Linked DNA regions of Homo sapiens: regions 1, 2, 3, 4, 6 and 7 are each linked to region 5. Evidence: fine-mapped expression QTL. A gene starts in region 5. Each other region holds a variant in brackets. All regions are shown on one strand. Distances are from middle to middle. Region 1 overlaps HDLBP (high density lipoprotein binding protein). Region 2 overlaps FARP2 (FERM, ARH/RhoGEF and pleckstrin domain protein 2). Region 3 overlaps FARP2 (FERM, ARH/RhoGEF and pleckstrin domain protein 2). Region 4 overlaps FARP2 (FERM, ARH/RhoGEF and pleckstrin domain protein 2). Region 5 holds the start of FARP2 (FERM, ARH/RhoGEF and pleckstrin domain protein 2). Region 6 overlaps HDLBP (high density lipoprotein binding protein). Region 7 overlaps HDLBP (high density lipoprotein binding protein).

Region 1 (4,281 bases), 100 kb after region 5:
TCCCTTTCAACTTTGTTTGATGGCTGTGGATATGTCCCTCCCTCCCTCACATCTATGTGAAGCAGTTTGGGATCAGAAGCCGCTCCGAAGAGAGCTCCCACTGGGAGCTCAGGGGCTGCAGCTGTGCCATTCTGTTTTAGCTATCTCTTTGGTTTTGGTGTGGTAGGTTCACATCGAGTTCACAGAGGGCGAAGACAAGATCACCCTGGAGGGCCCTACAGAGGATGTCAATGTGGCCCAGGAACAGATAGAAGGCATGGTCAAAGATTTGGTAAGGTACCCCTTGGAATGTTGTGTGTGCTGGTGACAAGGGAGGCTCTGAGTTGGGCATGGGCGGTCATCTCTCGATGACATCCCACATGTCCGGGCACAGACACCCAGGGCATCCTAGCTGGGTGAGTAATAGGTTCTGAAACAACCAGAAGCTGGTCGAAGTCCTGGAATAATCGTGGGTGGAGGAAACTTCATCTTGAAGAAGGCATCTTTCAGGGGAGATGCAGGGGCAGTCTCCAACAATTCCTGACAGCTGAGTGGTCAGAAAAGGCAACCGTGGAGACTGCTGGGTTTTGGTTCAGCTCATTGGCCAAGTAACCAGGCGCATCCATGGACCTCTGTGCTCCTCCTGCAGATTAACCGGATGGACTATGTGGAGATCAACATCGACCACAAGTTCCACAGGCACCTCATTGGGAAGAGCGGTGCCAACAGTGAGTGAGGCTGTCTGTTGCGGTGGGGCCAGTGTGCCCTGAGACCCTTGTGGGGGGTGTCAGCTGTGAGAACTGTGACGTCCGTGCAGACAGTCCAGGCCCATTGCTGCCTGTAATGGGAGTTACAGACTTTACATCCTCCTGCCTGCTGGAAGAGGCCACTTTTCCTTTTCCCTTTGGTGCAGTGGTTGGATTAGAGCTGCTTGGCCAGTGGGTGAATTGTCACTTTTGGAAATCCATCTAAGCCCTCCCCAAATAACCCACAGAGGCCATGTTGAAGGCATGCCCAAGGGCAGCATTCTCTATATTTCCGTCAGACCTGCTAGGTTAGCCAATCAGTGTTGGTAGTACTCATGCCTTCTGAACGTGGAAACTGCTGATCTGGAACTCACTGAAGAGTAAAAACATTCTAGATTTGTGCCCAAGTAAAACAACATGGGGAGGGATACTTTTTTGAGACAGGGTCTCACTCTGTCACCCAGGCTGGAGTGCAGTGGCGTGATCTCAGCTCACTACAACCTCTGCCTACCGGGCTCAAGCAATTCTCCAGCTTCAGCCTCCTGAGTAGCTGGGACTACAGGTGCATGCCACCACAGCCAATTAATTTTTGTATTTTTAGAAGAGACGGGGTTTCACCATGTTGGCCAGGCTTGTCTCAAATTCCTGGGCTCAGGTGATCTGCCCACCTTGGCCTCCCAAGGTGCTGGGATTAAAAGTGTGAGCCACCACACCCAGCAGGGGGATTCTGTTGAAGAGGCAGTGATATGTCAGCCAAGGTCGCTATATGCCTCACCTGTGCCAGGTTGTAGGTGTAGCACAGTTACAGGACACTGTTGGAAGTATGTCATGTGGGCCAAGGTCGCTGTGTGCCTCACCTGTGCCAGGTTGCAGGTGTAGCACAGTTACAGGATGCTGTTAGAAGTGTGTCGTGGGCATTCTGCTGCAGGTCCAAGGATGTTTTGTGTTGTTTGTTTGTTTTTTGGGACGGAGTCTCGCTCTGTCACCAGGCTGGAGTGCAGTGGCGTGATCTCAGTTCACTGCAACGTCCACCTCCCAGGTTCAAGCGATTCTCCTGCCTCAGCCTCCCAAGTAGCTGGGATTACAGGCGTGCACCACCACACCCAGCTAATTTTTTTGTATTTTTAGTAGAGATGGAATTTCACCATGTTGTCTAGGCTGGTGTCAAACTGCTGACCTTAGTTGATCTGCCCACCTCGGCCTCCCAAAGTGCTGGGATTACAGGCATGAGCCACTGTGCCCAACCAAGAATGTTTTTTTACACCTCTTTGTTTAACTGTATGGCTATAC[T/G]CACACACTCGCGTGTTCTGAAAACAAGTGCACACGTCGCGTGTGTTACCTTTGGGTGGAAGGTGAGAAGGCAAGCACGTCCTCCATTCCTGGATAGTTCAGTGGATGAAGGAGCCTTTCCCAGGTAGTGGGACACCGACCTGCATAACATGACTGACGTCCGTGTATCCGTTTTTGTTATGAGTAAACATAGCCTTGGCAGCTGTGCTGTGGCCTGTGCAATGGTGAGCTCTCTGGTGTCAGTCTTATGTTTTGTGGGCATTTTACGTGACAGCGACGAGAGTCTGTAGGCACAAAGTGACCTTTTTGCGCACTACTTGAACCACACATACACCATAAACTTGCTTTTACGGTTTTGTTTTGGTTTTGGTTAACTGTAGCGTTTGTTTAGGCCTGACACGGTGGCTCTTGCCTGTAATCCCAGCATTTTGGGAGACCAAGGCAGGAGGATCACTTGAGCCCAGGAGTTCGAGATGAGCCTGGGCAACATAGTGAGACCCCTGTCTCTACAAAAAAGAAAAATTTAGCCAGGCCTGTGGTCCCCGCTGCTCTGGAGGCTGAGGCAGGAATATCACTTGAGCCCAGGAAGTCAAGGCTGCAGTGAGCTGTGATTGTATCGTGCCACTGCATTTTAGCCTGGGTGACAGAGCAAGACCCTGTCTCAAAACACATATATATGGAAGTACAGTAGTGTAAATCTAACATTAATTTCTGGTTTCTGCCCCCGAGAAATTGCAGAATGTAGCTTAGTCAGTCATGTCTGTTCTGTTTTCTTCTCATGCAGTTCCTAACTCTTGTCTTCTTTCGTAATCTAAAAAAACCTGCTGCCCAGCTCCCATGTCCTCTGCTTCTCTTGTCTTGTGTTGCTTCACCTGGCACAGCTGCATGTCCATGTTCCCCCCTCAGTGCATCGCCTCGTTGCTGCCTCTGCGTGTGCATGTGTTTGGGATGGACGCACAAAAAGCCCTCCTCGTGGTCCTTCCAGCAAGCTGGGCTTCCCTTTACTGCACAGTGGGCAAGATTCCTGCCTTGTTTCCTGATGATACGGCTTCTCCAGAGTTTGGGGGGCCTGGAACTCTTAACTTGGGGGTACTGGGTTCTATCCAGAGAGGTTGACAGCAGGAGGGTTTGCAACAGCACTTGTCTTGCAGACACAGTGAAGTGCTCAGTGTGAATCTGAGCCAACAGTAGATGGGGTCTCTGGGCAGCAGCATGGGCCCCACAAGGCTCTTAGGCGTCAGTGAGTGCTTTTGTGTGGAGTTAATGTGTGTGGTTTTTTTAACTTGAGAATAGTAGTTCCCAAACTTACTGCACATTAGAAACACCTGGAATCCTTCAACTATTCTGAAGCCCTGGCCAATACCCCAGACGAGCTAAATCCCAGACTGAGTGGCCCCAACCGTCAGTTATTTGAAGGTCTCGGGGCATTTCCAGCTTCTGGTCCAGGCTGAGAGCCTGTCCTCCAGAACCCTTGTGATCCAGGTGAAGATCATAACTGGCCCCCATTCTAGACAATGGAGATTTTTGTTTGGGAAGCTAAGCATCGTTTTTGGTGATGGGAATCACAGATAAGGTTATTTAGCGCTTTAGCGCTGTCCTGCCCAGTTATGTCATTGGCAGAATGTTGTTGGTCTGTGTCCTAAATGTGTTTCCTTTTGTGTTCCTAAGTAAACAGAATCAAAGACCAGTACAAGGTGTCCGTGCGCATCCCTCCTGACAGTGAGAAGAGCAATTTGATCCGCATCGAGGGGGACCCACAGGGCGTGCAGCAGGCCAAGCGAGAGCTGCTGGAGCTTGCATCTCGCATGGTAAGTGCCATGGCTGGGCCCTCTAGAAAGGCACTGGCCTTGCGTCTCTTGGCCCCCTCTAAGGAGTAGCGTGTTGTGGTGTGCGGCCTTAGAGAATGGAAGTCGACAAATCCCACGTTGCACTGGAACCGGATTGGACTCCCTGGGGCCACATTTCCTTTATCCTCCCCAGGTCACCTGCACGTCTTGTTCTCCATGGCTGTGTGCTGTGCTAGAAGGGCACAGAGACTGTGTGGCAGCGTCTTGGCCTTGGCCACACCCTGGGTGCCCAGATGCCTGGGTACCATCTCCAGAGATTGTGACAGACATTTCTGGATTCTCAAAGGCATCCCAGGTGGTTCTCATGTAAGGCCAGACTCGAGGATCACTGCAAACCTGAAGTGGGGGCTGTTGCTCTCTACCACCTGGCAGAAGCACTGCACTGCTCTGGGCTCCCCGACGTTTCATACATGCTTATG
Region 2 (4,301 bases), 44 kb before region 5:
GGAAAAAGTTACAATGTTTTATTTTGCTCTTATTAGATGAAGATGTACAAATGGCTACTATGCATTTAAAAAGATACTAAATTTCTTTAATAATAAAACAGTAAGATATTTTTCACCCATCAAAGAGGGTTAGAATGATGATGCCAATATTGGTGTGTCTGTGAGAAACAGCCACTTTCACAGAGTGCTGGGAAGAATGTAAGTTCATATGACCTGATAATTTGAAAACACCTTTGAAAATTTAAAGTGTGCATTTACCTTTGCCCAGTAATTCTACTTCTAGAACTTTTTCCTACAGATACTTTCATACAACTGTACAGACCTAAACATGTTAAGGACAAATTCAGTAAAGAATTGGTAAAATAGGCCGGGCACGGTGGTTCATGCCTGTAATCCTAGCACTTTGGGAGGCTGAGGTGGGTGGATCACCTGAGCTCAGGAGTTCGAGACCAGCCTAGCCAACATGGCAAAACCTTGTCTCTACTAAAAATACAAAAATTGGCCGGGTATGGTGGTGCACGCCTGTAATCCCAGATACTCAGGAGGCTGAGGCGGGAGAATAGCTTGAACCCGGGAGGCGGATGTTGCAGTAAGCCGTGAGCCAAGATTGCGCCATTGCACTCCAGCCTGGGCGACGAGCGAAACTCCGTCTCAAAAAAAAAAAGAATTGGTAAAATAAATAATGACATATCCATAATGGACAACTATGCAACCCTTAAAAAGAACACAGAACTCTCTATTGTGTTATCATTGAAAAAAGTCTACAACACATAGTTTAATTAAGAAAAAAATAAAAGGGACTCTGGGCATGGTAGCTCACGCCTGTGAACTCAGCAACCTGAGGGAGGAGGATTGCTTGAGGCCTGGAGTTCAAGATCAGACGGCACAACAGAGACCCTGTCTCTACAAAAGATAAAAATTAAAAGGAAAAAGAAAAAAAGGCCTCCATTTCTATACAATGTATAAAACGATTCCATTTTATTAAAAACACATATGCCCCATGGATACATTTATATGTAATAAAAATAAGTTTGGAAAGCTGTTCACTAAATCTTTAAAAGTAACCATCATTAAAGAACTAAGCAGAGGTGGAGGTGGGGCAAGAGCATTCTTACTTCTTCACTTCTATAACATCTCAATTTTTAACCAATAGGCATATATCATCTTCACAATTAATAAACAATATGTGCAAACTGGGGGAGGCAAATCTCATTGTTCCAAAGGACATTATGGCCCTTGAGGTTTAGTCACCAGATTCTCACTGTGTAAGAAATAAAACCTTGCAAATCCATTGTAACAAAGCAGCATACGGAATGAAAGTACAAGGAACGCCTCTTTAAAATGGAAAGGTGAGCTACGAAGTGACCTGACATTGTACATACAATTTCTAAAGAACAAAAGGGCAAATCTGTGTTGAACTTGCTCTGACATAATCTCTTAGGGCCTTCTCCAGTAAGAACTTACTCTGATGCCTGTGGGCATCTGGGAGGAGGCATGCCAGCGCTCCACATGTGGTCCATCAGGATGGGGAGAATGCAGCCAGACCAGGGTTTCTGAGACTGTTAACTAGTCAGAAATTATGAACCGTGGAGTATGCTGCACTAACTCACTGTGGGCCCAAACAACCCTATGAAGTTCTTTCAAAGCCATACTGTCTGTCCACACTTCCATCCAGGATCACCAGGACAGTCCTCCTCATGACTCTCCCTGAGTCAGTACTTGGGGTGGGGAGGCTACATACAACCAAGTCCCTCACCCTGATACAGCCTCACACTACCTGGCTTCACCTGAGTGCAGGGATAATGACATGCCCAGGCTATTCCCTTAGAGAAGAATTCTCTCTCACTTCCCTTCTATCAGTCTCCAGTGAATGCTTTGAGAATCTGATAAAAAGTCAGCTCATTTGTGGTCTCTCTTCATCCAGTCAATTCTACCTAATTACACACCAGTTGGTACTCGACTCTAGAACTGCCCTTTGGCATTGCTGCTGACTGTGACCCGTTTATTTGTTTGGGTGTGTTCCTCCTACCAGATGGCAAGTTTAAAGGGCAAGGACTGCACCTTCTCCATCCTAGTAGCTCCAGCTCTGGCTCACAGGAGAGGCACCACACACGGCCAGATTCCCGGACTGTCCACCACTGCTCCTGATTCTGACGGCTGTTGTGGGAGCTTGAGTGTGCACTTCAGGTGGCACAGAGAATATGAAATTCTCTTAGCTGTACCCT[T/CTT]TTTCAACTACCTGGCTGCCCCTGTGAGTCAATGGGGAGGTCAGGGTTCCCCGTCCTACCTGAGCCCCTGCACTGCCTAGAGTAGTGCAGCCAGAGTGTGCTCCAGGAGCCCTGCCTGACTACACTAATGAAGGCGATAGACACTAACCACGCAGGTGCAAGCACATTCACAAGGCACCTGTTAACCAGCAATGTCCAACACCCAGGACAGGGTTTGTAAATACGGGCACAAAAATTCACAGTTATATGGGTATTTGTATATATACACACAAACAAACATATGTATGTGTGTTTAACCTTCAGTACAGGGAGGATGATCTTTTCATGAATGGTGCCAGGGAAACTGCATATCCATACAGGTGAAAATAAGCACTGACTCCAACCTCACACCATGCACAAAATTAATTCAATATGAATCACGGAAAGGCACAACAATAAAGCTTGGGGTAGGCAAATATTTCTCAAACAGGACACAAAAAACACTAGCTCCCCCACCCCCAAAAGACTGATATCGACTACCTGAATATTACAACCTTCTGTATATCAAAAGACACTGTTAAGATAGGAAAAAGGCAAGCCACAAAATAGAAGATAGTTGCAATACAAAAACCCAACAAAGAGGCTGGGTGTGGTGGCTCATGCCTGTAATCCCAGCACTTTGGGAGGCCGAGGCAGATGGATCATGTGAGGTCAGGAGTTTGAGATCAGCCTGACTAAAAATACAAAACTTTCACTACTCTCTACTAAAAACACAAAAATTAGCCGGGTGTGGCGGCGTGTGCCTGTAGTTCCAGCTACTTGGGAGGCTGAGACAGGAGAATTGCTTGAACCTGGGAGTGGAGGTTGCAGTAAGCTGGGATCATGCCACTGCACTCCAGCCTGTGCGAGAGAGCTAGACTCCGTCTCAAAAACAAACAAACAAACCCAACAAAGGTCTTGTAGTCAACATATATAAAGATCTACAAATCATAAGGAAAAACCAGACAACCCAATTAATGACAAATGGGCCGAAAGACTTAAATAGGCACTTCACAAAAGAGGATATTCAAATGTCCAATAAACAACAAGAAAAGTTGGACAATATTACATCAAGGAAATGCACACTAAAACCACAATAAGATACCACTAGACCCTCACCAGAATAGCTGAGAATATAAAAATGGATAATCCTAATGTTGGCAAGAAAAGTAGAACATCTGGAGTCTCAAACACTGTAAATTTGTATTATCTCTTTGGAAAACTGACAGTATCTACTAAAGGTATACAGAAGTATACCCTATAACCTAGCAATTCCAGTCCGGGGTATAAACCCAACAGAAATATCTGTTTATAGAGACCTAAAGACAAATTCAAGAATGTCTGGTTGGATGCGGTGGCTCACGCCTGTAATCCTAGCACTTTGGGAAGCCGAGGCAGGCAGATCACCTGAGGTCAGGAGTTCAAGACCAGCCTGATCAACATGGTGAAACCCCATCTCTATTAAAAATACAAAAATTAGCCGGGCGTGGTGGCACAGCCTGTAATCCCAGCTACTTGGGAGGCTGAGGCAGGAGAGTTGCCTGAACCTGGGAGGCAGAGGTTGCAGTGAGCCAAGATTGCACCACTGCACTCCAGCCTGGGAGACAAAGCAAGACTCTGTCTCAAAAAAAAAAAAAAAGAATGTTCACAGAAGCTTTACTCATAGGAGCTCAAAACTGGAAACTACCAAAATGTCAATTAAACAGCAGAATGGATAAACAGTGATTTGTTTTTACAATGGAATACTACCCAGCAACGAACAAACAAGCAAACCACAGCTATACCAACAACACTGATAATTTTCACATAGTACATATTGTATTCATGTACCTGATAAATATATACATACTTAAATGAACCTGAAGATCTGGCAAAACTAATTTATAATGCTAAAGATCAAAACACTGGCTACTTTTGGGGGTCATAACTGAGACAGGCACAGGGAGCCTGTTCTACTCCATTCTCTGGGTGGGGATACATAAGTGTATACATATGAAAAATTATCAAGCTGCACACATAAGACACATGCACTTTCTTATGTAAGTTATATTTCAATAA
Region 3 (4,301 bases), 130 kb before region 5:
CAGGGCAAGTGGACATAGCCTCTAGAGCTGCATGAAAGTCTCCCCATGACCTGAGAACAGTATTTCTATTGAACACAAAAAGCACTAACCACAAAGGACAAAGTTGATGAACTGGATCATGCTAAAATGAGGAATTTCTCTTCCCATCCCAGGCATGTGCCTACATGGGACAGAGGGCTGGCATGGATGTCACACAGGTGGCACAGCCTGAGGAAGATGCTGCTGCAGAGGCTGACTCTAAGCTTGCGGGGAGCAGGCCTTGTCCTGCCAGGTGCTGACAGAGACCACAGGCTGAGTCCAGGTTTCCCTAGAAGGGAACCATGGACTAGAGACAGGGCAGTTTGAGCATCAATAACAACAATGACCATGAGGGTCAGAAACAACCAACAAGAAATGCCCAGCAGGTGCTGCTCCCAGTGCGGCCAAATACTCAGCAGGTGCTGCTCTCAGTGTTGCTGGGTAAGGATTCGCCTCTGCAGGAGAGAGGTAGGTGGGGCCCAGCCCAGCACCACGTGGAAATCCCAGGCAGGGTGCAAGACCACTCACCAGCATGCCTTGGAGGGGAAGGAGGCCCCGGATCCGGAAGTGGCTGGTCCCTGCAACTCCTTTGCTTGTGTACAGCAACATATCTGAGAACTGAGAAGCAGCAAGCTTTACATCCATGAACTTCACAAACAAGTGTCTTAATAGTCAGACCAACTTGGACTCTGGCTGCTCATCATGTGGACATCAGATCTGTGCAGCTTGCTGGAGATTTTTGGCAGAAAGGGGACTTTTATTCATTCATTTGGTCGTTTTTGACCAGAGGCAGGAAAGGGCCACAGGAACCAGTGCATCTGCTGGGTCAGCTCCCAGCTAGCTTGGCTGAGAAGCTGGAGGCAGTAAGGAATTCTGGCTGGTGCTGACTCAGTTACCTCCTCATCCACATGTTTCAGGCTGGAACCCACTAACTGGTAGGAACAAGGACATGCTGGGAGGGGCTTCTGAGCCAACAGTGAAACTGTCCCGACTGGCCATTGGGCCATCAGTAGCACCTTCTTGCAGCCACATGTATGTGGACTTTACAATCTTTTGGCTTCTGTTTGTCCCATAGTCAGGTGCTCAGAACCTGGAATGAAGAAGGAGGCTGGCCCTGGGGTGGGTGGGGAAGCTGTTTTCTGCTTCTTCCCACTCTGTGACCCTCCCCTGGCCCTGTCTGACTCCAACGCTACCCACCTGGACCAAAGCCTCCAAGTGCTAAACTACCCAGAGGCCAATGGGCTGCCGCTGCAGGCGATGTCCCTAACAGAACTGCTGCCCATCCCCCTCGGGGGGAAGCACAGCTTGAGTGGGGAGAGAACCTACCAGAAAAAACATCCTCTGCTGCAGGCCCTTCTTGGTGAGCTTGTGAAGGCAGCCCTCACGGATGAACTCCTGAAAGACAGAGACAGAGTCCCCTTTCAGCGGGCTGAGGGCAGCTGGCGGATGCACTAGCCGGGCTGAGGGTCAGGAATAGCCTTGTGGCCGCTTGTGCTCCTCTGGCTCCTCCCAATGAGGGTCCTCTAGTGGAGCCTCCCAATGGGGCTCCTCTACCCTCAGCAGTGCCCTTGGTCACCAGGTCCTGTCTTGGTGCCAACAAATTCAGTCCTCAAACCATCTACTGAGCACCTGCTCTGGGCTAGGAGCCCTGGAGCCCTGATACAACCAAGAGGTAGAGCCCGGAGTATTGTTCTTGCTGAGGAGAAGCTTCTGGAAGGTTCAGCCACAAAGATGTCATCTGAGATCAGCTTTGAAAACATTGGACAGGAGCAGGTTCGAGAATGGGAGGAGGAAAGGAGGGTTCTCCTAAGTATTCAAATTAGCACCAGGAGCAGGTTCGAGAATGGGAGGAGGAAAGGAGGGTTCTCCCGAGTATTCAAATTAGCACCAAGAGCAGGTTCGAGAATGGGAGGAGGAAAGGAGGGTTCTCCTAAGTATTCAAATTAGCACCACCTCGTCCACCACAGGGCGTTAGATAAGAAAAAAGAATCCTGCCAGTATCAGACACCTGCGCAGATAGGGTAAGCGAGAGTCCTGGGAGCCCCTCAGATTCCTAACCTGGACTGCTCTGGAGCCCTTCCACCATCTGTTCCTTTCAGACAAACAGGAGGAGCAGCAGGTGTCCGGAGAATGTGCTAGGGGCCTCCTAGTATGAGCAGTCCCAACATACTGCGTGAAGGCAGAAGGAGGAGCACACTACACAGATAATCCTCACAGAAACGCAGGATGAAAAACCAGCCCAAACAGAAACGTCCACCCCACACAATGAAGAAGGTGGTCATATGGATGCATTTGCGTTAACTGGATGGGGCCGGTAACTAAGCTTGTGGCTCTCACTCCACATCTGCCTCCTAGCCCTACTCTGAGAGGCCACAGGGGCGTGACAGGGAGCCCTGGAGACCGCACGC[C/T]GAGGTCCCTGTGAGCTGCTGGCAATTGCTTGGCCCTGGGAGTGGCCGTTCCTTCCAGCCACAGGTAGCAGCATCACCCTCAGAGACCCCAGCACTGGCTAAGCAGCAGCCCCCTCTCCAGAGCTCCCTCACAGGATGTGCGTCCCAGACCCACGGGGCGCCTTCTCCACCATGCACTGGCCCCGCTGCCAGCTGTGAGGCTCAGCACCGTGGGCCTTTGACCAAGCTGTCAAATTTGTTCCCCAGCCCTAGGGTAGTAACTGTGGCTCACAGTTCTGCCACCTCCCTGACACTTCACAGTTCTTTTTACCCTTTGGCACCTCATCAACTTTATACCTGGTTAACAATCCTTGCTATTACATCCTCTGCTCAAATAACTGGCATGGTTTCTGTCTGTTGACTGACACACATATTTAACTCAGGAAGACAAGAAATTCTGGGCTATCCAGACATGACTTTAGAGATTTTGACTAATAATAACAAATTATTATTTGAATTTGCACAGCATCTACTTCATGCAAGGCCCAGGGCTGAGCAGCTGACATAGATTCCCTGTTCATCCTCAAGACCTCCTGCCTCAGAGAGGGGGCGCAGCCTGCCCAGGCCACATGGGAAGTGTGGAGAGCCTGAGTTTGATGCATGGCTCAAGAGCCTACACCTTTGCCTATGTAGCTACTCTCAACTGTCTTTTCATTGACAGTTCCCTGGGCCACCATCTATAAGACCCAGTGACAGTTCCCTGGGCCACCATCTATAAGACCCTGCACAGAGGTTACTAGGAGAAATAACACTATGTAACATGAGCCCTACTTCCAGGAGTTCCCAGCCAGCAGCAACAGCTCAAAGCTATGCAGCCAAGGAGAGAAATGAAAGAGTGGTGGTCCTAGCACCTGATCAAAGCCCAGACTCCCAAAGTGGGGAAGGTTTCCTGTATATTACAGGCTAATTCATTTCTCCAAGCTTGCAGTTCCACATTTTCAATACCTTCTTCTAACAAGGCTAACACAGAACATGATTCATACACATGCTTCAATGAACATGTGTGTGCAGAGACAGGAAACATCTCCATGTAATTTTTAAAACAATTTTTTATGTTGAGAGTATTGAGTTCAAAGCAAAAAGTACTAGTGACAGAAAGTAACTGGCCCAATGGACATATAGACCATGGGATAGAATCAAGAGTCCAGAAATAAATCCATATGTTTACAGTCCATTTATTTTTTTGTTTTTGTTTTCACTCTGTTGCCTAGGCTGGAGTGCAGTGGTACGATCACGGTTCACTCTAGCCTTGACCTCCTGGGCTCAAGTGATCCACTTGCCTCAGCCTCCTGGGTAGCTGGGACCACAGGTGTGTGCCACCATGCCAGGAATTTTTTTTTTTTTTTTTTTTTTTTTGGTAGAGACAAGGTATCAGTATGTTGCCCAGGCTAGTCTCAATCTCCTGGCCTCAAGTGATCCTTCTGCCGTGGCCTCCCAAAGTGCTGGGACTATAGGCTTGAGCCACTATGCCCAGCCCCCATTGAACTTCTACAAGGGTTACATGGCAGACAGTTCAATCAATGCTGCCGGGAAAACTGGACCTCCACATGCAAAAGAATGAAGTTGGACTCCTACCTTCCACTATACACAAAAACTAACTCAAAATGGATCAAAGATTTAAATGGAAGAGGTAAAACATAAAACTATTAGAAGAAAAGAAACAGAAGGGTAAATCTTCATACCCTGGGTTAGGCTTTCTTTCTTTCTTCCTTTCTTTTTTTTCATAAATACACAGTTTTGTTTGCTATTTTCAGGGGAAACTTAGGCATTCAACTATAAGCTGATAAAATACCATACCTAAAAAAGTATAAAAGTATAAATATCCCCTTAGAATAA
Region 4 (4,301 bases), 61 kb before region 5:
TCTCATAAGCATGAACTGTGAGCCCTTTCTGGGGCTCCTGGGAACATGTTGGCTTGCACTGTGACTTTGCCGCTGAAGGCTGTGAGATTCCAGCCTTCCCTACTCTGCAAAGTCAGGTCCCACTCCCTGTTTCATTTCCCAGCTTCCAAACATTGCTGCTATCCTCATCTTTCGTGGGCTGTTTTCCCATTCTTTGTTCTTACGGATTTAAATGTTTAAAAAATTCCTTCAACTGTCATTGTGTTCAGGGTTTTGAGGGAATAAAAATAAATACATATATTCAGTCTGCTATCTTCAAACTGAAGTTTCTAATCCCTTGCTTTTACAACTTCTTTAGGTTGTATTATTTGTTTTTTTCTGGAAATGTGGCAATGGCTCAGTTTGGATATGAGGTTTTCATCTCTGTGCAATGGGGGAACACTCATCAGCAGGTGTAGGCAGGGGATGCTCAGACCCTCCACCTGAAGGCATGGATTGCTAAGGCTGGTCTCTATCATGGATTTTTATTGCTCTCTAATCACATTTAGTATGAAATGTAACATAATACTCTAAATTCAAAATTAATTTTTTTTCTGACAGGAAATTGAAACTTGATGGCTAGGTTAAGAAAAATAAGGAAAAGAAAACAATAATAAACATGGCTTGATGAGGGAGGCCTGAATCAGACCAAGCTCTTTTTGATAGTCACAGGTTAAAAGAGCCCACAAAGAAACAGCAGCTCATGCAGGCAATGGGCTCCCAGACTGCAATAGTGACAATTCCCACAATATTCAGCATTGAGGAGACCTTTTCAGGATTACCGTAGTCTATCAGAGGTGCAAAATTTTACAAGGGCCAGTGACTGGAGTGCTCCCAAAAGGAGGGGCCCAGACAAGTTGGACATATTTAGCCTGGGTGCGAGGGGACTTGGGGAGCCCCCGCAAGAGCTTTCTTCAGATATGCAAAGGGCCTGAATAAGGAGAAAAGCTCCTTCTAGTCGGCACTAGCAGTCACACTTAAGCTTCTTGGACATCACAAACCCCAGCATACACACACATAACCACAAATGGAAGTGAGCAGGCCATGCCCACCATTTATGTAATTATTTACCTATGCATCACAACTAATACAAACACTTCAGAAGACAACACTGACTCTTATCACAAGCAATCCCTCTGATATTTTCTATTCTATTCTAGTTTGTTTACTGAAATGATTACTGTAACCCACTCTAAAGCGCTCACAGTCCAGCCCAGATCACATCCACAGCACAGAGACTGCTCCACTGGAAAAAAAACAGGGTTGTGGTTTAGGATCCTAAGGGGGTAGGCCGAATCCCAGGAGGGAATGCGAAGTCCCAGAGGCAGTGGGCAGCCCTGGGGGGCAGGAGGCAGTGGGGAATCCAAGGAGGCGGGAGGCAGTCCCAGGAAGCAGTGGGCTCCATGACATGGAGGACAGTCACACGTGTGTCAGAGAAGGACAAAAGATTAATTTTCCCACTGAGTAAGAGGTTGGATTGGATGATATGCAAAGCCCCTCTTCCAAATCGAGGCCCGTACTCATCAGGACAAATATTTACTAACATCTATAAGAACAAACCCCACCAGGTTGCAGAAAACCTCCCCTGCCCTGTTCTCACCCCTCCCTTCCCCACTGGCCTACCTGGAACACGAGTACACCCATGTGGGAAACTGCCAGTTGAATCTTGGTTCCTTCCCTGTCAGAAGCCATGTGAAATCTGATGCCGTACATTTCCAACTTTCGAGCAATTTCGAGCACCTGGAAATCCGACTCAGCAGGTGTCTGGCCCCTGTAATAAAAAATGGTAGAATCATACACTACAAACACTTGATTTCTGAAAGAGCCAAAATGCATTATAGAAGCGATCAGGAAAACCAACAATGAAGGCTTTGTGTGTTTAGAGGGCAGATGGTTCACTGTCTGTGTTTACCCACTACAAAAACAGCATACCACACGTGCAGGCCAAAGACATCCTCAGTTTTCTTCTATTCTGTAACTACTTTGTAACGGGTAGAACACTTTCTTTGCATACACTAGCTACTCAGCCTTACATCTGCTCCATAGTGACAAGGTTATACACAAATACTACTGGCAGAGACAAATTTTAATCAGAAGAAACACCACAGAGGGCCGGGCACAGTGGCTGACGCCTGTAATCCCAGCACCTTGGGAGGCAGAGGCGGGTGGATCACCTGAGGTCAAGAGTTTGAGACCAGCCTGGACAACATGGCGAAACCCTGTCTCTGCTAAAAATACAAAAATTAGCCAGGCGTGGTGG[C/T]GGAGGTTGCAGTGAGCTGAGATCATGCCACTGCACTTCAGCCTGGGTGACAGAGCGAGACTCCATCTCTAACAATAATAATACTAATAATAAAATGAAATGAAAAAGAAAGAAAATGAGTGTGACGGGATAGTAGTGTTATCTATGGTATTTCTTTTCTTTTCTTTTTTTTTTTTTGATGGAGTCTCACTCTGCTGCTCAGGCTGGAGTGAAATGGTGCAATCTTGGCTCACTGCAACCTCTGCCTCCCAGGTTCAAGCGGATTCTCCTGCCTCAGCCTCCTGAGTAGCTGGGACGACAGGTGCACGCTACCATGCCCAGCTTTTTGTATTTTTAGTAGAGACGGGGTTTGCCATGTTGGCCGGGCTGGTCTCAAACTCCTGACCTCAGGTGATCCGCCCACCTTGGCTTCTCAAAGTGCTGGGATTACAGGCGAGAGCCACTGCGCCCGGCCATCTCCTTTTCATCTTAAAAAATATTTTTTACTATCTGAAACACTTGTGTCTTATAAACCCGTTTTCTCACTCACTCACTCACTCACCCACTCACTCGCTCATTCGTTTAGAGACAGGGTCTCACTCTGTCGCCCAGGCTGGAGTGTAGTGGCATAATCTTGGCTCACTGCAAGCTCTGCCTCCCAGGCTCAAGCGATCCTTTCGCCTCAGTCTCCTGAGTAGCTGAGACCACAGGCACGCACCACCACACTTGGCTAATTGTTTGTAGAGACAGGGTTTTGTCATGTTGCCCAGGGTGTCTTGAACTCCTGGACTCAAACTTGTTGGCCTCTCAAAGTGTTGGGATTACAGGCATGAGCCACTGTGCCCGACTTTTCTCTCCAGTTTCAAAGATCCAAAAGCAATGTGATAAAGTCAAGAAAAACACTTCTTTAATATCCTATTCAGTGATTATAAAGGTGTTTTCAGTGGATCACTGAAGAACCATCAGAATCATAAGACAATGTAAGAAATGTATAATAATTAAAATAAAGGTACAATATTGTCTTTAAAAAAAAACCTGAAGGATTATCAAAAGAAATAAGATGTGCAACGAAGCTGTGGTGACTGTGACAGACACAGTCTCAAATTAACACAGTGAAGGCCTACAACGTAGAGCAGAGCTTCCTGCTTCCGGGCTTATTCGGCAAGAGTTCAACTGTATTCCCGTATGAAGCAGACCACATGGCTCACCCTTCTCGTACCGGCTTTCTAGGGTTTTTAGCGGATACATGTGCACATGTAAGGACACACACATGCAGAGACACAGGCACAAGAACATGTGCAAGTACACATAACCACAGTATACAATGTACACAGGAACACACATCAACACACATGAACATATGAGCCACACACAGAAACACACACAATGCATGCATAGGAACACATATACATGCACACACGACCACACAGCCACACATGTATACACAGAACACACCCAGACACACACACACACACACACACACACACACACACACACACACACAGAACTACCCTGAGGGTCCAGTTCTTTGTTCTTCCACAGGCAGGCTTCTCGACATAAGTGCCCAAAGATGTTGTCACTGCCTCCTCACTGCACTTTCAGTGTACTTGAATCTAGAATTCACCCTCACCACTCACTGAAGCTGCTGAAGGCGATACACTGCCACACTGCCAAGCTCAGAAACCTGCTCCTGTGCCTACCTCCCCAGGCCTGTAGTCTCCACACAAGAGGCTGTGGCCACTATCCTAAAACATGCTCTCTTGGCACCTGTGCCCTTCCATGCTTCTGGCTGCTAAAGGCTCTTGTGGGTGCCTCCTCCTGCACTCAGCCTCTCAAATGTCAGTTCTTCAGGGGTTCATCCTGGGCTCTTCTCCCTTCCTGACCTGTATCTGCCCTCTGCCTAGCTGATTTCACCCACTGCACAGGTTAGCCCAGCCTACGTGCTGACAACACTCTCCCCAGCATCCCAAACCCACCCATCCACTAGGGACTGTCCTTCAGGTTGGACAGTTCGCAGCACAATGCCCAATTCTCCCTTCCTCAT
Region 5 (4,301 bases):
TTTTTCTCTACTGTTTTTTGTAAATATCCAGGGTTAGCTTGTTCTACTTTCTACTCGGATTATTTGTCCACCTGATAATAATAATGGCTAACATTTATTAAGCACTTACCTTGTGCCAGGCATCTTGTTAACACAGCTTTTTTTATTTATTTTTTTATTTTTTTGAGACAGAGTCTCGCTCTGTCGCCCAGGATGAAGTGCAGTGGCACAATCTTGGCTCAATGCAACCTCCACCTCCTGGGTTCAAGTGATTCTCGTGCCTCAGCCTCTCAAGTAGCTATGATTACAGGCGTGCGCCACCAGCCCAGCTAATTTTTGTATTTTTAGTAGAGATGGGGTTTCGCCCTGTTGAGCAGGCTGGTCTGGAACCCCTGAGCTCATGCAATCTGCCTGCCTCGGCCTCCCAAAGTGCTGGGATTACAGCCACTGTGCCTGGCCAAGTAAATTTTAAACTCATTTTTTGAATAAGGAACCTGAGGCAGAGAGAAATGAATACACCTTATATCAACTTCCTCTTTGGGAAAGGAATTAGTATACAAGGAACCTGGAAATTTACTAACGACTGATAGTCCTATAGGTAAATAAGCCAGCAAACGTCTGCAGTCCAGGAAACTGCATCATCAGCATTTAGTTTGTTAACAGTGAACCACCTAATGAGAATCTGCAACAAGGATAGGGCACATGAGAAGTACAGATGGTATTTGCAAGTACCCTAGGTGTGACCCTAAACTGGTCATTCCACCTCTCTCAACCTCCCTTTCCTCTACTTTAAAACGGGGCTGTGCAACTTGGTCATGTCTCTGAAGAGTTTTGGAAAACTGAATAAATAACGAGCATGAAGTGCTTCCTAAACCTTTAAGGACCTCAAAAAACAAAACAAAACAAAACTTTCAACAAGCAGATGTAGAAAATTTAAATTATATTTGGCCTACAAGTAAAGGTTACTCCATGCTTCCCTACCTCAAATGTCCTCTCCCATCTCTCTGGTACTGAGAAAATCTGTGTCGCCTGTTATAAGGCAGTCTACACAAGACCAACACGCTAACCCACTGCCACCTCAGGGTTATCAAACATTTACACAGTGGCCCAGACAAAAATATCCCACGGAAACAAAACAAAAACAAAAACCCAGAGAGAAAAACCACCCTTTAAAGATTTGGCCTTGGGTTTTAAATTTGCCCATCCCTTTTTAACACTATGTATTGACAATCTTTCCTTCAATGATGCCTTGTTCTAATTTCTGCTTTTCACATCCATTAATGGCACATGATAGGCCAGGGGTTGCTGCCATAGCGTAAACGGAAAAGGTGCCCGTAATTCGGGTGTGTAATGTACTGGGCCATATTCTGGTCCCCAGTTTTCATGGGTTTCCCAAAGGCTACCCACTGGCTTATGAGTATTTCTAGCCCTTAGTGGAGTAAAAATATTAACACCTAACACTTGATTCCCACCTTTAAGATACAATTTAAAGAAATGCTAAAAAGGCAAACGGCTCAAAATGCCTCCACCAGGCACCTCCAGGCCCATACCCTGCGGGTCCCTATGGCCCACTCTGGGGTGTCCTTCCGGGATGGGACACTCCCCGGCCCACGGCCCTGCCGGCCTCCACGGGGCACAACTCAACCCGCGAGTCCACGCGGGACACTCCCCGGTCTACAGCCCCACCGGCCTCCTCCACGCGGCACCCCTCAACCCGGGAGTCCACGCGGGCCACTCCCCGGCCCACCGCCCCGCCTGCCCCCACGCGGCAGGCTCCCTACAGACGGACGCTCCTCTAACCCGGACCCGCCTAGGAGCTCCAGCCGCCTCACGATGGCCTTCAGAGGCCGGGCGGGACCATCTCTGGTGGACCGCGGCCTCAGCGCCCCCCCCGCCTGGGCCTCTCGCCTCGGGCCTCGGGCTTCGCCGCCCACCCGGAGAGGCCCACCCCTGCCCCACGCGCCCAGGCCGCTTCACGTCCTCACCCTCGGCCTCTCGCTCGCCCGCCGCGTCCTCACCGGCCTCGCCCGGCCTCCGCAGTCGCAAGCAGCAGCCGCCAGACTCGCGTCGGCGTCGCCTGCTCCCAACTGCCCGCCGGCAGCCCCCGCGCAGCGCGCCCCGCCCTGACCCCGCCCCCGCGACGCGGACGCGCAGTCGATTGGCCTGCGGGGCGCCAGGGCGGAGCCTTCCCGTCCCGCGGCCTGAAAGCGCAAGATCGAGTTCTGATTGGTGAACGGACGGAGAAGGGGCGGGAGCAGGCAGGCAGCTGCGTAGGATATAAATCTGTGCAGCGCTCGGCTCGTTGGGCGGGGCGTCGGCTTGCTGAGCGAGGCAATGTCCTAGGCGAAGCCAAGGCTCGCTGGGCGGGGCTAGATCTTGGGCGGGGAGTCGGCTCGTTGGGTGGGGCTAGGTCCTGGGCGGGGAGTCGGCTCGCTGGGCGGGGCTAGGTCCTGGGCGGGGAGTCGGCTCGCTGGGCGGGGCTAGGTCCTGGGCGGGGAGTCGGCTCGCTGGGCGGGGCTAGGTCCTGGGCGGGGAGTCGGCTCGCTGGGCGGGGCTAGGTCCTGGGCGGGGAGTCGGCTCGCTGGGCGGGGCTAGGTCCTGGGCGGGGAGTCGGCTCGCTGGGCGGGGCTAGGTCCTGGGCGGGGAGTCGGCTCGCTGGGCGGGGCTAGGTCCTGGGCGGGGAGTCGGCTCGCTGGGCGGGGCTAGGTCCTGGGCGGGGAGTCGGCTCGCTGGGCGGGGCTAGGTCCTGGGCGGGGAGTCGGCTCGCTGGGCGGGGCTAGGTCTTGGGCGAGGTCTAGGCTCGCTGGGCGCGGATAGGTGCTGGGCGAGGCCTAGGCTTGCTGGGCGCGGATAGGTGCTGGGCGAGGCCTAGGCTTGCTGGGCGCGGATAGGTGCTGGGCGAGGCCTGGCTCGCTGGGCGGGGATAGGTCTTGGCCCGGGCCTTGCCGGCTGTCCTTGCACCCTTTGGCTCAGTCCCTGGCTGCCAGCCTCCTCCTTCCTCCAACGCATTGCATCCCTCGTGGGACTACAGGGACCGAAGGGGATCATCGAAGGATCGCGCGAGGCTGTGCTAAGGCTGAGACAGGCTGCTCCGTGGTGGCGGCCAGGACGGCCTTCCTCTGGCCTAGGGACCCCCACCCGAGAATGGAAGACTGACTTGCTGTGGCACACTTCCCTTCTCTTGAGAAGTTCATTGAACTCCTATGTGTTCTTCAAGACCCTACCCATCGTGCTCTCCTAGCCCGGCCCTGTCACCCACTGTCACCATGTGGCTGTTGAGGGAATAATTAACTTCAGGAAACACCCGGGCACTTAAGAGACTCCTCCTATGGTGCTGTGGATTCCAGAGTGAAACCTGACCCTTCGTTTCCCAGAAGCCCAGACAGGAGAAATGCTGGCTCAGGGGAACCTCCATTTCTCCTGAGACAACTATGGGGTCTGAGACCCAGGCACACCAAGACTGGGCTCAGCTGTGCGGGATGCTCCCCTCATGTGCCACCCACCTCTGGGGCTTTTCCTTTAACCAACCCCCAATGACACCACCAGGCCCAGAGTGGTGCACACACCCCAGAACAGAGGATCCCTGCCTGCAGACGGGCAGGGCCGGGTGGGGATAGTGCAGGTGAGAGCCTGGCCAGAGGGTGGTACTGACCCCTGGTAGGATGCAGGGTGTGTGCTGGTGACCTGAGGCTGGCAGTCTGGAGGGAAGGCAGCAGGCGTGGCAGCTGTCAGCTGAGGAACTAGAGAGAGCAAGTTTCAGTATCCAGGGGTCTGTCTATAAGGAAGCTCAGAAAACACTGATAGCAAGGTAAAAGGGGCCCAAGGTGGTCCTGGGATGATCAGTCCAGTGGGCAGGAAGAAGGCTAGAGGCCTTGGAGTGTAGGTGTCCAGCCACCCAGATCAATTCAGGTTTCCAGTTTCCTTTACTCAAGTGGCAGAGCCGCCTTAGCCTATTCTTGAAAATTTATAGGTTAGAAATTTCTTCCTAGATATATTTCAATCATTCACTTATATTTCCAGTAATTTAGTAGTTGCTATTATCAATGCGATTTCTTTTCTCACTACATTTTCTAATTAGAAAATAGATATCACTGACTTCTTAGTGTTAATTTTCACCAGATGTCTTGTACTTTCTAAGTAGATGTTCTGATCACCTGTAAATAATTCCTTTCCAATCTTTTGTGCTTTCTTTTGGGCTGGATCTCCAATACGTACAAACTTGTCCAGTACTGACACTATTGATTCAAGTAATTTTTCTTGATTTTATACAAAGATGTTGTCAAGACTTTGAATTTTCCCAGAAAACCTCACAACTTTCCCTT
Region 6 (4,301 bases), 49 kb after region 5:
TGCCGATACAGGATTCAGCCCTTTTAGGTCTGTTTCCAGTTTCTAGCCTCCAGTATTTTAATGTTCTTATCTCTATTCTTATTCTTTGCTTTCGTGATTTGTATCTTAAAAAAAGAAAAAATCGTTTACTATCATTTTAGTGGTGCTTCACGAAGTAGTGTAAATGTATTGATCTGACAACGGCTCGTGCTGGAGACACTGTTCCAGGAAGTGGGACACAGTAAGGAAAATGCAAGTGTGTTCTCCTGCACTTTCACGGAGGTCACGTTTTGGTAAGCGGTGTCAGGCAGTCAGCAGACCAGCAGATATGCAGTATGTCCAATGTGGACAAGAAGAAAGGAGGAAAATAAAGTATCGAGGGGAGTGGAGTGGGGGACACAGTGGCAGTTTGGCATAGTGGGGAGGCCTTGCTGATTGAGCGACAGTTGATTCAAACTTGAGATGAGCAAACAAGCCATGGGCAGCGATCTGGGGAAGAGCGTTATAAGAGGAATGGACAGGAGGTGAAAAGCACGGGGGCAGGACTGTGTTGTGCACGTTAGAGGAATGTGGAACACCAGTTATTAGACCAGTGTGGAGCAGGACCAGAGGGTGTAGGAGACGGGCAGGTCAGGGAAGAAGCCGGGGCTCCTAGCAGTCGGATCTTGATGCCTTTGGAGAGCTGGAGCAGAGTGACCCAGTACTGGTGGTGGATCGTGGTGAAGTGACCATGGGCCACACCATTCACGACATTTCTTACTTTTCCTGTCACCTGTAGGAGGCAAGTATTGTTGTTATCACAGGTCGAGGTAGACCCTGAGGCAAAGGCTAGAGTTAGTGGTTTGGCTCCAGTTTGTGCCTTCAGCTACTTCACTGCTTCCCTAACCTGGCCTTGTCAGTCAGCCTCAGTCTACCATCTACCCAGGTCTGCATACCCCGCAAAACAGTATACACTTTGACGCTTTTCTGCAAGCACAATTACCTTTTGGGGGAGCCCTTCTCTTAAAGCAGAGTAGGTTAATGTTTGTGAATGAAACGGAACTTTGGCAGGCTGAGGTGTCTCAGGTCATCAGCTTACGTTGTCTACTGTGTGACTAATTGAGGCAAAAGATGTCCTTTTTAATAGTATTTTCTCATCACTTTTGCCTGGGTGCCCTTTAGGAATGTTATTTTTGGCATACAACTTGAGTTTCACTTAAATTTATAATTCTTTCTGTTCATTCCTACTGCTCTGTTGCCCAGATGTGGATTTTGCTTTGTCTCACAAGCGTTGCTGAAACACTGGTAGAAAGGTGGACGACGGATTGGTTGTGATTAGTTTGATCTTCACAGTACAGAAATTCAAAAGGTCAATAAGCTCAACAAGATTGCTGTCTCACTGATGATCAGAGTTGCCATTAAAATCGTATTTCCCGCACATCAGGCTGGAAAAAAGAATAAACATGATCATTTTAGTTGTCCTCAAAGGAGAAGAGGACAGGTATTCTGTAATCAGGTGTTGTGAGTGTAACTAGTTAAACTCTTTGGGAGGTGGGCAGTTTTACCTTGGCAATATCTATCAATGCATTGCCTGTCATCATATAATTCCATTTCCAATTCAATTTATCCTGTGGGGGTAGAGGCCCAAGTGAGCAGAGGATGTTCTTTCCAGCATTGTTTATAATCGCAAAAAAAAAAAAAAATTAGTTCAAGGGTCCTATCAGTAGGGGATTTATTAAGGTATGTTTACTCCACTCAACATGTAGTTGTTAACAAATGAGGTAAATTTGTATTTGGTACTCGGAAAGATGGCCATGGTGTCTTTTCAAATGAAAATAAGTGTAGCAGATGGTGAAAGAATGCATGTAAGATCCTATTTTTATTTAAATCATGTATTAAAATTATAATTAAAGTATAATTAAAATTACAGTTTTGAAGATACAGTTTAGAATATATTTTTTGGTAAAGCCTCATGGGGGGGTTGCCAGTTTTTACATTGTTTTGTTGAGTTATCTTTTAGAATATTTTTAAAGCTAAAAAATCAAGTTCCTTGGTAGACCATCACTACAGCAAGCCCACTGCAGTATTAATCTATTAATACTGTCAATGTTAATTAAACCATTATTCGTGTAGCCCCTACCCATCCCATTCCAGTCTCTCAGGAGGCTTAGCTGTATCCCAGAGACCCCAGTGCTATGACCGCAGGTCTCTCCTGGGGCAGGAAGAGGTAAGAAGTGGCTGATGTCAAAGTCAACAGTCAGCAAGTGGCGTGAGCAGTCTCGATGAATTCTTTCAAATAAGCGTTTTTCAGATCCACTCTAGGGCTTGCCTTTTCCCTCTGTTGTAGTCTCAGAAGTTCTTGAGGTAGACCTTGTGAGACCTGCAGCAGTACTTGCTGTCTTAGGTACAGAAGGCAGGATATTGATTATTTCTCCCTGACTCAACAAAGAGTTGAGATGTTTATCCAGGTTAGGATGACACTGCCCCCCTGTCCCCCCCGCCCCCCAAAAAAGAAACAAAAATGAAAGGATGGTGTCTTTGACTGTACTGGGAGTCAGGAGACCTCACTTCAATTTTGGGCTTTTCCTCGTTTTTTTTTTTTTTT[TG/G]AATAGGTTCAGAGCTACTCCCTGGACCTGTTCTTATCAGCCTTATGACTTGGGGACTTGGGATACTTTTTTTTTTTTTTTTAATTTATTGAGACAGAGTCTCTCCCTGTCACCCAGGCTGGAGTATGACAGCATGATCTCCGCTCACTGCAACTTCCGCCTCCCGGGTTCAAGCAATTCTCCTGCCTCAGCCTCCTGAGTAGCTGGGACTACAGGCATGCACAATAGTAGAGATAGGGTTTTGCCGTGTTGGCCAGGCTGGTCTCGAATTCCTGACCTCAAATGATCTGCCAGCCTCGGCCTCCCAATGAAGTGCTGTGATAATAGGCATGAGCCACTGCTCCCAGCCTGACTTGGGGTACTTTTTGACCTGTAGGATTTCAGCTCCTTTCTTTTAAAAATAAGAAAGCTGAGGCCAGGCGCAGTGGCTCACGCCTGTAGTCCCAGCACTTTGGGAGGCTGAGGCGGGCAGATCACCTGAGGTCAGGAGTTCGAGACTGGCCTGACCAACATGGAGAAGCCCCGTCTCTACTAAAAATACAAAACTAGCCGGGCGTGGTGGCTCATGCCTGTAATCCCAGCTGTGGGAGGCTGAGGCAGGAGAATTGCCTGAACCTGGGAGGCAGAGGTTGCAGTGAGCCGAGATCACGCCATTGCACTCCAGCCAGGGCAACAAGAACAAGACTCCATCTCAAAAAAAAAAAGCTGAATCTCTGAGTGGGTTTTTCATTTTTCATTTTTTTTTTTAAACAGATGCCTCAGAACCTGGGTAACTCAGTTTATCAGAAATTCAGTTTTCAAGTTTGGAAGGATAACACTTGGAGCTGGTAGTCACTCATAAAACATCTGATTTTGTGATCACGTTTAAGAATCCATGAATGATATAAAAATCCTCACCTATTAAAACTTTTTGGCCGGGCGCGGTGACTCACACCTGTCATCCCAGCACTTTGGGAGGCTGAGGTGGGTGGATCACGAGGTCAGGAGATCGAGACCATCCTGGCTAACACGGTGAGACCCCGTCTCTACTAAAAATACAAAAAATTAGTTGAGCATGGTGGCGGATGCCTGTAGTCCCAGCTACTCGGGAGGCTGAGGCAGGAGAATGGCGTGAACCCGGGAGGCGGAACTTTGCAGTGAGCCGAGATCACGCCACTGCACTCCAGCCTGGGCGACAGAGCGAGACTCCATCTCAAAAAAAAAAAAAAAAACAAATAAACAACTTTGTATTCATTGCTTCCTATATACTAGTCATCACGCTATTTATTTCTAGCAGTGGTTATCACCAGGGTGATTTTTGTTACCCAGGGCACATCTGGCAGTGTCCAGAGACCTTTGTGGTTGTCGTGACCTACAATCATCTGGTGGTTGTGGCCAGAGATGCTTACATCCTGTGGTACACAGGGCAGCCCCCGCAACAGAAGTATTCGACTCAAAATGTCAGCAGCGCTGAGGTTGAGGAGCCCTGCTGTAAAGGGTCAGTCCTTGAAAGGGCTCTAGGGTATAGCCATCACAGGCCCCGTTTTTTTGGTTGGAAAGAGTAGAGCCTGGCCAGGTCCGGTGGTTCACGCCTGTAATCCCAGCACTTTGGGAGGCTGAGGCGGGTGGATCACCTGAGGTCAGGAGTTCGAGACCAGCCTGTCCAACATGGTGAAACCCCATCTCTACTAAAAATACAGAATTAGCCGGGTGTAGTGACACATGCCTGTAGTCGCAGCTACTCAGCAGGCTGAGACA
Region 7 (4,301 bases), 69 kb after region 5:
TAGAACTTTCCTATGTAAATTGTAGGAAGGAAAAAATCATCAAGTGTAAATTGTTGCCCTGGGTCAAACTTCAAATTATTTTGTTTCTTGTAGTTTAATGAGATTTATAGTGAGGAGATGGAAGGGATTTTTAAATTGCAGGACTAAAGGGGAATGGCCCTTCCTACAGCCATTCTGTTCCCATCCCCTTCCCAGGAACACCATTACAGTTGGGGTGGGGGCCTGCGTGGGCTTCAAGCCCTGGTGAGGAGTATGTGTGTGTGCAGGAGCTGCCATGAAACACCTTTCAGCGGCTCAGGGTGGCAGACTAGTGTTACCATGGCAGTTAGAGACATCAGTAAACCCATGGGTCATACGGATGCATTTCCACCTAGAAGCAGTGGTTTGTTTCTTCAGTGAGTCAAAGAAACTTAAGATGGAGGAGACCCTAAGGAGTCATGTAAGTTAAATGATCACCCAGTGGAGAGTACACTTCACAGTGGGAATAAGCTCTGCCCATTTTTTTTCCTAGGTGCTAATTCAGGAAAGCATGCTCACTCTTAGTGATCCTTTTCTTCATGTTGAGATGAAATGTGTCTTCAGAATTGTTCTTAGTTGTGCAGGCAACTGGACAGAACTCAGTCCCCCTTTAAATGCTCTCCACATGGTAAAGACAGCTCTTATGTATCTTGTTCTCAGTTTCCAAGGCTTGAATAGGTTCATGTAAAGTCATCACCACTTCCTCAAAAGGAAATTAACAAAAAAAAATTTTAATTCAGACGTCTTGCAGATAACGTGGCAATTGTAATGAGAATAGCACAGCAGAGAAAATAAATTTTGTGACTCTGTTTTTCACTGATTTGTAGTACCTGGTGATACTTAAGTGTCCTCTTTTCCCTCTCCAGGTGGAGGTATTTTTGTTGAAAAGTAAAGAGCCTCATATAATACAGAGCTTTCCCCTTCTGCTGATAACTCTCACAAACACTTAGCATATGTCCATCCATAGTTTCCTATTAAAACACACTTTGGGGGTATGTGGTGTAGGAATATGTGCCATTTTTCATGGTCTTCCCTCCCGTCTTCACATTCTACAGCTTCACAGCAGAATTGTCTTTTCAAGTCCATCTTTTACCCAGCTGTTCATGTTGATGCTTGTTGAGGACTGGGCTCTGGACTTCCTGTCCTTTTGCTATTCTCAATGACTTGAGTTTCCTTCTAGAGAGGTCTTATGCATGTACAAACATGTATATCTTTTAACACGACTGGTTACATATCAACGTAACACATAGCTGCAGGCCAGGCGCAGTGGCTCACACCTGTAATCCCAGCACTTTGGGAGGCCAAGGCAGGCAGATCACTGAGGCCAGGAGTTCAACACCAACCTGGCCAATGTGGTAAAATCCTGTCTCTACAAAAAAATATACAAAAATTAGCCAGGCATAGTGGCGCACACCTGTAGTCCAGCTACTTGGGAGGCTGAGGTGGGAGAATCGCTTGAACCTGGGAGGCAGAGGTTGCAGTGAGCTGCGATTGTGCTGCTGCACTCCAGCCTGGGCAACAGAGTAAGACCCTGTCTCAGAAAAAAAAAAAAAAAA[G/AG]AAAGAAAGAAATAGGCCGGGCGCGGTGGCTTATGCCTGTAATTCCAGCACTTTGGGAGACAGGCGGGTGGATCACGGTGTCAGAAGTTTGAGACCAGCCTGGCCAACAATGTGAAACCCTGTGTCTACTAAGAATACAAAAATCAGCCAGGTGTGGTGGCGCACGCCTGTAGTCCCAGCTACTCGGGAGGCTGAGGCAAGAGAATCGCTTGAACCCAGGAGGCGGAGGTTTCGGTGAGCCAAGATCACGCCACTGCACTCCAGCCTGGGCAGTAGAGTGAGACTCTGTCTCAAAACAACAACAACAAACTGCCTCTTCTTGTTCACTGACACTGGGTGTATGGTTAAAGCCCCCTTAACTGACCTGTTTTGAGGCACAGAGGTTTATTTAATCACCAGTCATTTGATACAGGGTGAAGACCTATTTGAAATGGGACTGGCTGGATTCTACATGTTTTCTTTTTTTTTTTTTTTGGAAACAGGGTCTTGCTGTGTTGTCCAGGCTGGAGTGCAGTGGTGCCATCATGGCTCACTGCTCAACCCCTGGGGCTCAGGTGATCCTCCCACCTCAGCTTCCACACTGAGTAACTGGCACTACAGGTGCATACTACCATGCCTGGCTAATTTTTATTTTTATTTTTATTTTTTATTTTTTGGTAGAGACAGGGTTTCACCATTGTAAACCCAGGAAATCTGACAAGTCTCAGTTAATTTAGAAAGCTTACTTTGCCAAGGGTGAGGACGCGCACCCGTGACCCAGCCTCAGGAGGTCCTGATGACGTGTGCCCAAGGTGGGCAGAGCACAGTCTGGCTTTATACATTGTAGGGAGACATGAGACATCAGTCAGCATATACAGGACGAACATTGGTTCGGTCTGGAGAGGCAGGATGGCTCGAAGCAAAGGCAGGAAGACTCCAAGTGGGGAGGGGACTTCCAAGTCACAGGCAGGTAAGAGACAAATGGTTGCATTCTTTGGAGTTTCTGATGAGCCTCTCCAAAGGAGGCAGTCAGATACGCATTTATCTCAGTGAACAGAGGGGAGACTTTGAAGAGAATGGGAAGCACGTTGGCCCTAAGCAGTTCCCAGCTAGACTTTTCCTTTTAACTTAGTGATTTGGGGGCCCCAAGATTTATTTTCCTTTCAGACTATGTTGCCTGTGTTGGTTTTGAACTCCTGGGCTCAAGCGATCTACCCACCTCAACCTCCCAAAGTGCTGGGATTACAGGCATGAGCCACCATGCCTGGCCACATACTCTCTTCTTATGTAAATGAAATTGATAATATGTCGTCTAGGATTTTCAGCATTCATTTAAGTGGAACAAAAATTTAAGAAACTCATAATCAGTGTAGATTCTCTGAGATTTTAAAGGTTTTCCTCCATTTGACTTTTTCTTTTAAACAAACAGGTCTTGCTCTTTTTCCCAGGCTGGAGTGCTGTGGCACGATTGTAACTCACTGCAGCTTCAAATTGGGTTCAAATGATCCTTCTGCCTCAGTCTCCTGAGTAACTAGGATTACAGGCACAGGCTAATTGTTTTTATTTTTTATTTTTTTAAGAAATGAGGTCTCACTTTGTTGCCCAGGCTGGTCTCAAACTTTTGGCCTCAAGTGATCCTTCTGCCTTGGCCTCCCAAAGTGCTAGGATTATAGGCATGAGTCACCATGTCCAGCCATAATTTTTTTAAGGCAACTTGTTTTTCTTGAAATTTCAGTGTGGTAAATTTAATATCCATAGATAAATTTCTCTTCACTCCTTCATTATTTTGAATTATTTCTAAATGTAGTTACATTAACTAGTGAAACTGGCATAAACAGGTTTGAGAGCAAGTAAAACTGAGTCTTACTAAGCACACATCATCACTGGTGGGGATCGGTGTTCAGGGCACACTAGAAGGCACTCTGCTCATGACATCAATTAATATTTTACTGTGGGGGTGGAGACTTGGTCATTCATCAGGTCGTTTATGGAGGTCAGTGATAGTGCTTTGTGTTCTGCCACCCTTTGTTTACCCAGTCCCGGACTGAACCAATGCAAATGTTTAATCTTCTGACTCTACAAAAATGCTACAGTGCACATCAGGCACACTGCAGAGACACTGCAGGTTTGTGATACCACCACAAGAAAGCCTGACATCCCAATAAAGCACATCACATGAGTTTTACGTTTCCCAGTGCATATAAAAGCTGTAACATGTTTAGAAAAACAATGGTATATACTTTAATTTAAAATAATGGTTAAGGCTGGGCGCAGTGGCTCAGGCCTGTAATCCAGCACATTGGGAGGCCAAGGTGGGTGGATCACCTGAGGTCAGGAGTTCGAGACCAGCCTGGCCAACATGGTGAAACCCCGCCTCTACTAAAAGTACGAAAATTAGCTGGGTGTGGCGGAGCACACCTGTAATCCCAGCTACTTGGGAGGCTGAGGCGGGAGAGTCACTTGAACCCGGGAGGTGGAGGTTGCAGTAAGCCAAGATCAAGACTGTGCCACTGCACTCCAGTCTGGGCAACTGAGTGAGACTCCATCTCAAAAAATAATAATAAAATATTGGTTAAAAAATGCTCATGATCATTGAGCCTTCAGCAAGTCTTAATCTTTTTGCTGCTGGAAGGTCTCGCTTTGATGTTGATGGCTGCTGACTGATCAGAGCAGAGGTTGCTACATGTTGGGGTGACTGGCAATTTTGTAAAATCAGACAACAATGAAGTTTACTGCATTGATTGACTC

Evidence for each region. PIP is the estimated chance that this variant, and not a neighbour inherited with it, causes the effect. A credible set is the group of variants that fine-mapping cannot tell apart.
Region 1: its variant is the best candidate, but not a certain one, in a credible set for the expression of FARP2 in monocytes after R848 (Quach 2016, PIP 0.81).
Region 2: its variant is the best candidate, but not a certain one, in a credible set for the expression of FARP2 in whole blood (INTERVAL, PIP 0.74).
Region 3: its variant is the best candidate, but not a certain one, in a credible set for the expression of FARP2 in regulatory T cells (Schmiedel 2018, PIP 0.64).
Region 4: its variant is the best candidate, but not a certain one, in a credible set for the expression of FARP2 in CD4 T cells (BLUEPRINT, PIP 0.55).
Region 6: its variant is the best candidate, but not a certain one, in a credible set for the expression of FARP2 in skeletal muscle (FUSION, PIP 0.58).
Region 7: its variant is the best candidate, but not a certain one, in a credible set for the expression of FARP2 in whole blood (INTERVAL, PIP 0.57).

The regions. Positions count from the first base shown.
Region 1 is chr2:241,249,383-241,253,663 of GRCh38, reverse strand. HDLBP (high density lipoprotein binding protein) reads left to right here. Exons shown (of 28, transcript NM_005336.6): 10 at 167-271; 11 at 629-707; 12 at 3,684-3,823. Among named protein-coding and RNA genes, the nearest start is that of HDLBP-AS1, 21 kb to the left of the region's middle. RefSeq lists a silencer at 2,916-3,122. The variant T/G (reference allele first, on the strand shown) is at 2,016.
Region 2 is chr2:241,398,154-241,402,454 of GRCh38, reverse strand. All of the region lies in intron 2 of FARP2 (FERM, ARH/RhoGEF and pleckstrin domain protein 2), which reads right to left. Among named protein-coding and RNA genes, the nearest start is that of FARP2, 44 kb to the right of the region's middle. The variant T/CTT (reference allele first, on the strand shown) is at 2,226.
Region 3 is chr2:241,480,577-241,484,877 of GRCh38, reverse strand. FARP2 (FERM, ARH/RhoGEF and pleckstrin domain protein 2) reads right to left here. Exons shown (of 27, transcript NM_014808.4): 20 at 1,345-1,413; 21 at 547-636. Among named protein-coding and RNA genes, the nearest start is that of MIR3133, 4.8 kb to the right of the region's middle. RefSeq lists enhancers at 834-1,334, 1,335-1,835. The variant C/T (reference allele first, on the strand shown) is at 2,427.
Region 4 is chr2:241,415,450-241,419,750 of GRCh38, reverse strand. It overlaps FARP2 (FERM, ARH/RhoGEF and pleckstrin domain protein 2), which reads right to left. Exons shown (of 27, transcript NM_014808.4): 8 at 1,642-1,789. Among named protein-coding and RNA genes, the nearest start is that of MIR3133, 60 kb to the left of the region's middle. The variant C/T (reference allele first, on the strand shown) is at 2,279.
Region 5 is chr2:241,354,052-241,358,352 of GRCh38, reverse strand. It overlaps FARP2 (FERM, ARH/RhoGEF and pleckstrin domain protein 2), which reads right to left and starts at 2,068. Exons shown (of 27, transcript NM_014808.4): 1 at 1,965-2,068. RefSeq lists a silencer at 1,731-2,280.
Region 6 is chr2:241,305,235-241,309,535 of GRCh38, reverse strand. All of the region lies in intron 1 of HDLBP (high density lipoprotein binding protein), which reads left to right. Among named protein-coding and RNA genes, the nearest start is that of HDLBP, 8.3 kb to the left of the region's middle. RefSeq lists an enhancer at 1-132. The variant TG/G (reference allele first, on the strand shown) is at 2,564.
Region 7 is chr2:241,284,694-241,288,994 of GRCh38, reverse strand. All of the region lies in intron 1 of HDLBP (high density lipoprotein binding protein), which reads left to right. Among named protein-coding and RNA genes, the nearest start is that of HDLBP-AS1, 15 kb to the right of the region's middle. The variant G/AG (reference allele first, on the strand shown) is at 1,575.